2 separate regions of the Homo sapiens genome follow, and region 1 is linked to region 2. The links come from fine-mapping of genetic effects on gene expression. A gene starts in region 2. The other region holds a variant in brackets. All regions are shown on one strand. Distances are between the middles of the regions.

Region 1 (3,029 bases), 31 kb after region 2:
TAATGGAACCCAGAACAACTTTAACCCATGGAGTGGCATCTTTGTGGCCTGTTTTAAGACTCAGGCATAGAGAGCAAGACAAACTTAGAGAGGACAGAGAGGGAAGGGAGTCAAGCGGGTGATGTGCCTACACCCAGTGGGAGGACAAGCTAGGGCAAGGAAATAGGGCTGGGATTGATTAAGGGTGTTATTCAGCTTTGAAAGAAGATCAGCTGCTATCTTTCTTAGGCTGGAGTTTACAATAACTTTCATTAACTTTTAGTTAATAAAGAATTTTGTTGATTGGTTATTTTTCATCTTTGTTTTTTAAAATTTTTTCCTCACTTTTTGGGTGATGCAGGGAAAGAAATATAGTGAGGCTTATAACTTGATTCTTCCCATTGCCTGGCACTGGGCAACCACCACCTGAAACTGGCCAGGGCACTGAAGGATACTGTAGAGGTCAGTGTCTCACACTGAAACCAGGAAAACCCACCATATTCCCAATTTATATATATGTTTTATACATACATTCATGCAAACATGGGAAACATTAAGGATTCCAACATAATCAGGCCACTGTTTATTCTCTTAACAGGTTAATTTTTTTTTTTTACTATTGCTCTACTTTGAAATAAGCTTAGATGCCCAGTTAACATACCAAGCATAACATAAATGTAAACAAAAGTTTATATGCAAATCTAAAACTTTCTTTTGTTGTTCCAGCTTCTCTACTACTGGCCTCTTAATAAAAAGCAGAAGTGAAAAGGAACAATTTTCATTTTCAGTTCTTCCTATTGAAGAGACACAGTATAGAATATACTGTCTCACACATCCATTTCACTGAATATACTGGTCTGTCTGCCTGGAGCACTGATTTCTCCTTCCTCTTTATTTATAGAACCATTTTGCATCTGACCACGTGTTCTTTAAAAGTCACCGGCCAGTGAATTCAGCTTCAACTGATGCAGAGTCCAGTGTGTCTATTTCTGTATTTCCATGTGCATTGCACATACCTCTAGCATAGCATTTAAAGCATGTGTGAAATGTGTTCACATAAACATTTTCCCCACAGAACTATGAACACTTACAACGGCATCTAGTATAGAGCAGGGACTTAATTTTTTCTTTCAATTGTCTCATTTTCCTTTACATATACCCTATTACTGAGCTTGGTATCTGGGACACGATAAATCTTAAGAATCTTTTTGTGGAGAGAATGATGTATGAGTGCACTTACTCTTCTAAAAGTAGCTATGGGAGCCAAAAGAGATGTGAATAAAATAGAGGAGCTTATCCATACATGTGTGCTAGAATATATTATAATTCTTAGTGAATGTGATCCAGTGTATGCTAAGTTCTCAGTAGGTGAGCTGGTTGAGAGGGAGGAAAGCTGGAAACTATTAGAAACACAACCTGGGTGGATTCTAAAGTACTGATCAGCAATCTAGAGTATAATGTCCAAAGGCACG[G/C]GACTAACATTACTTGCTTTAAACTAACATTGGCATCCAAGAGGGGCTGATGCGATAGGTGAGGAACGCAATAGGAGTTAATAGGCCGGGAGATATTTGCATTTAGCCTATGGTTTCATCTCAATTATTCTTTTGTTTATCCAGTTTGAAATAGAATACCAGCTGTGATAAAGGTTCAGTGAGAGGGTTACAAAGCCTAGTCAGGAGGAAACAAAAGAAAAATTAAAAAAAAATAAGGCTGGTATCAGAGTAGGCAGAGATGGGATAGGTTACAGGAAAGAGTTAGCTTAGAACAGCATTTGGTTTCTGCAGTCAACTTCAGTGTTTCAATGGTAAACTTCACTGTCTAGAATTATTACATTTATCAGAGCTGGCTCAGGTTCACGATCTTGAATCAGATGAAGAAAGAGGGGACTGGCACTGATTCTTTGATTACATCACCTATCTTACTTCCCATTAATACTCTACCTCACCCTATCTTACTTCCCATTAATACTCTACTTCCTGAATTTCTGCAAACCCAGACTTTAAGGAAGCTTCTCTTTTCACATTAGCCAAATACCACATATTTCTCAGCCGTTATCTGATAAAAGAATAAACATTTATTGGTTATGATATTTTCACTTAATTTCTGCCACTTGAAACAGAAAAACCACACTGGATAAAGTTTGACAGTGTTTGTCACTATCATTTATATTTATGCCATATCATTTACTCATGTTATTCCAAACACTAACCAGAACCCAGAATTAGACCTGATCCTGAGCGGCTATAAGATGTATATTTAGTACCAATTGAAAAATAATAATGTAGGAATTATAGAGGAACTATGCAGAGTTTGAGACATTTATCATCTTAATTAGATGGAGAATTTTTTTTAATGGATAATCTAATAGCTAAGACTAAACTTCTTGTAGGATTTGTTGTTGGATCATAAACCAGTGTTCACTTTTTGATTTGGGCAACAAATAAACAAACCTAAACAGAAGAAAGATGTCTGAAGAGCAAAACTTGAACTTTCTGACTCACCTCCTTAGTTTGCCTTGTGTCAGAATGGATTGACTAAAGCTTTATTATTTGGTACAAATACTTTCTGGACCATTTTGTTTCTTGACATATAAACTGCTGAGACAGAAGGTGATGAAAATATTTAGAGCCAAGTAATTTTGGATGATTAGAAAAGCCAGCCTCATGTGGCTTTGTTATTATGTTTTCAAATATAGGCCACTGTGTGTTTCAAACATGGGTTACGTTGATTTCTCCTCTTCGTCATCTTTCTTGTTTCTTACAGCTAGAGGTGACCTGCTGCCCAGTGGAAAATGTGCAGTGAATGGCCCTGGCTTCACTTAACAAAAGAAAACTAAGTTTCTAAGTTCTGAAAATAACTTATAAAGGGTGCATCAAGTATATGATCTTATTGGTGTAAAGAACTGTGAAGGGTCTGAGATTTTTACTTGCAAACTTACAAGATGGCCCGCCATAGTTTCATGGATGCCGATAAAAGACACAAACCTCCTGGGCCAAAGTTGGACAACCTTTAATCATAGCAATAACAGGAGCTAGTGTATTCTTATTTTT
Region 2 (2,500 bases):
CAAATTTTAGGAAGAATATCTTATTGCTAGGTATAGTAACTAGAAAATTATAAGAATTTTAAATCATGGCTCCACATGTTGAAAGATCAAAAAGGAAGGCTGTTAAATCAGAAAGAACAGACTTCAGAATGATGCAGGTTGTTTGTTTCCCCAGGGAAAATGTTCTTTCCAGGGCCAAGAGCATTTTCTTATTTTTTCTATATTCCTTCCATCCATCCATCCATCCATCCGTCCATCCATCCATCCATCCACCCACCCACCCACTCACCCACCCAAGCATGCATGCATGCACCCTACACACCTGTGTCAAATACGAAGCTGGATCCTCAGGACACAGTGGTTTCTGCTCTCTCTGAGTTTCAGTTCTAAATTTAAAGGCAAACTCAGAAGTTTCTAAATGTGTGAGCTCTTTTCCCTTCTATCAAATCAATTGCATTTTCCCACACTTCCAACATTCATTTTGTTGTCCACCTGTTCATGGGAAGCAAAGGCACCTTTGCAGACAGATTTCAGTCTGGCTTTCTTTCATCCAATTGCAATGGGCCTCTGATCTTTTCATGGCTGGCTGCTTGCCATGCATGTCTCAACTTAACGAGCACCTCCTTGGAGGGGCCTCTTTTAACCATCTCATCTGAAGTAGTCATTCACCAGCTGCCATCACATCAACCTGTTTTATTTTCATTGTAGCATTTGTCCTTGATATTTTTTCATTTGCTTATTTAATTGGTCCCCCTTTCTGCCACGAAAGCTCTATGAGGGCAGACAGGTGCCTCATCTGCTTCTTTGCCTCCGAATTCTGAAATGATTTGAAACGCAGTTGGCATTCATTAAATATTTGTTGACTTAATGAATGGATTCTTAATTGGCTACTACTGCTTAAAGGTCTACAAATACTGATTCATCCTTGTTGACAAGTTTTTACTTCTCACACGTATGCATATTAATCAGAATTTAAAACTAAGTCTTAAAAATAAAACAGCTTGGAAACGTGGGAAACATCTGGCAGAGAAATCATTCTTGCATTCGCAGTGACGGAAGGAAAATTTTTTCTCTGAAGTAAGCAGGTTGTTGGCCTCTTTATCGGTATCATTGGAAAATGCTTGCCTATTTTTGTTGGTTTTCTCAGGAACTGGGAACATCTGGCGTTTGGAACATAGAACGTTGTTCATTTTTAAAGCAGAGTCATAATAACTTTATGAGTTGAGGGTAAGAGAGAAAATGACCAAAGAAAATGAAGGCAGTCTGGAGAAAGAAGAGGCTCGTGTCCCTTTTAAGGAACAGGTTTCCTTGGCTCTTTGAGAGTGGTTCTTAAAGGAAGCTTCCTACGAAGTCCGCAGTTGGTATCCTTACTAAATGAGCCAACTAAATAGTGGAGGGGAAAAAAAGAGTGCGTGCCTGGCTCCTCCTAGTTCAGGCTCATACCGCCTCCTGAAAGTTGTGGCTACAGGACAGGCTTTGGCTGCTTTCTAGAACGTCGCTCGGATCCCTTTAAAGGTGGGGATCTTGACGGAGAGTGCGGGGGATGAAGGCGGGAGCTGAGGGCTGGAGAGTCTCTGTTGACATAGTAACTCTTCAGCTCCGTCTCCCTTGCTCTCCGCTCTTACGCTTCGCTACCACCAGCGGCCCCGCCTGTGCCCTCTCTGCCCGGGCGCCCCAGACGCATCCTCGCGGGGTCTCCTCGGCCTGACCTGCTCAGGTCAAGATCCTCTTTGCACCCCCTTAAGTGGTGACTTTTCCCCGGGCCAGTGGGCGAGCCACTTGCGGCGGGCGTCTGCACCCCCTGCTTCACCGTCGTCCCCTGGGCACCGGTCTGCCCAGGTCCAGTTCGGCCGCTGACGCGAACCCTCCGCACCGGGTCCCCGCTGGAACTGCCCACTCGGCTCCCCCGGGAGCGGGGCCCAGGCCAGTCGGGCGTTCCCGCCATGAGCCAGAGCCCGGCGTTCGGGCCCCGGAGGGGCAGTTCTCCCCGGGGCGCTGCCGGAGCCGCTGCGCGGCGCAACGAGAGCCAGGACTATCTGCTCATGGACTCGGAGCTGGGAGAAGACGGCTGCCCGCAAGCCCCGCTGCCTTGCTACGGCTACTACCCCTGCTTGTGAGTGCCGGCGACGCGGGGCGGATCGGGCGCGGGCTGCGCGGAGGGAGGTTGTGCGCTCGCAGGAGTGGCCGAGTCCGTCCGCGCGCGTCCTGAACCCGCGTGTGTACCTCCTAGGACGGTGCTGGGAGGTCCGCGAGAGCCAGGGCTGGGACCTGAGTGAGTGGAGGGGCGCGCGGGGAGTGGGGGAGGCGGGGTTGTCTAGGTTTGCTCCTCGTAGGTACGCATGGATATGTTTGCCCACGAGAGTGAGACCGCATAGTAACACCACCATTGCAGGTGATTAGATGGGTGGTCGATTTCTCCAGACCCCTTCATCCTGCGCTCTACAAGAGACAGGATCGCTACGTAACAGGCGGGATCTGAACAGGGGGCTGATTCAGATGTGCGCCCGGGTGACTCTTAGCC

The links. PIP is the estimated chance that this variant, and not a neighbour inherited with it, causes the effect.
Region 1: its variant is fine-mapped to the expression of TRPC6 in whole blood (INTERVAL, PIP 0.92).

Annotation. Positions count from the first base shown.
Region 1 is chr11:101,551,974-101,555,002 of GRCh38, reverse strand. All of the region lies in intron 1 of TRPC6 (transient receptor potential cation channel subfamily C member 6), which reads left to right. Among named protein-coding and RNA genes, the nearest start is that of TRPC6, 31 kb to the left of the region's middle. The variant G/C (reference allele first, on the strand shown) is at 1,452.
Region 2 is chr11:101,582,926-101,585,425 of GRCh38, reverse strand. TRPC6 (transient receptor potential cation channel subfamily C member 6) reads left to right here and starts at 1,419. Exons shown (of 13, transcript NM_004621.6): 1 at 1,419-2,092. The coding sequence starts at 1,923.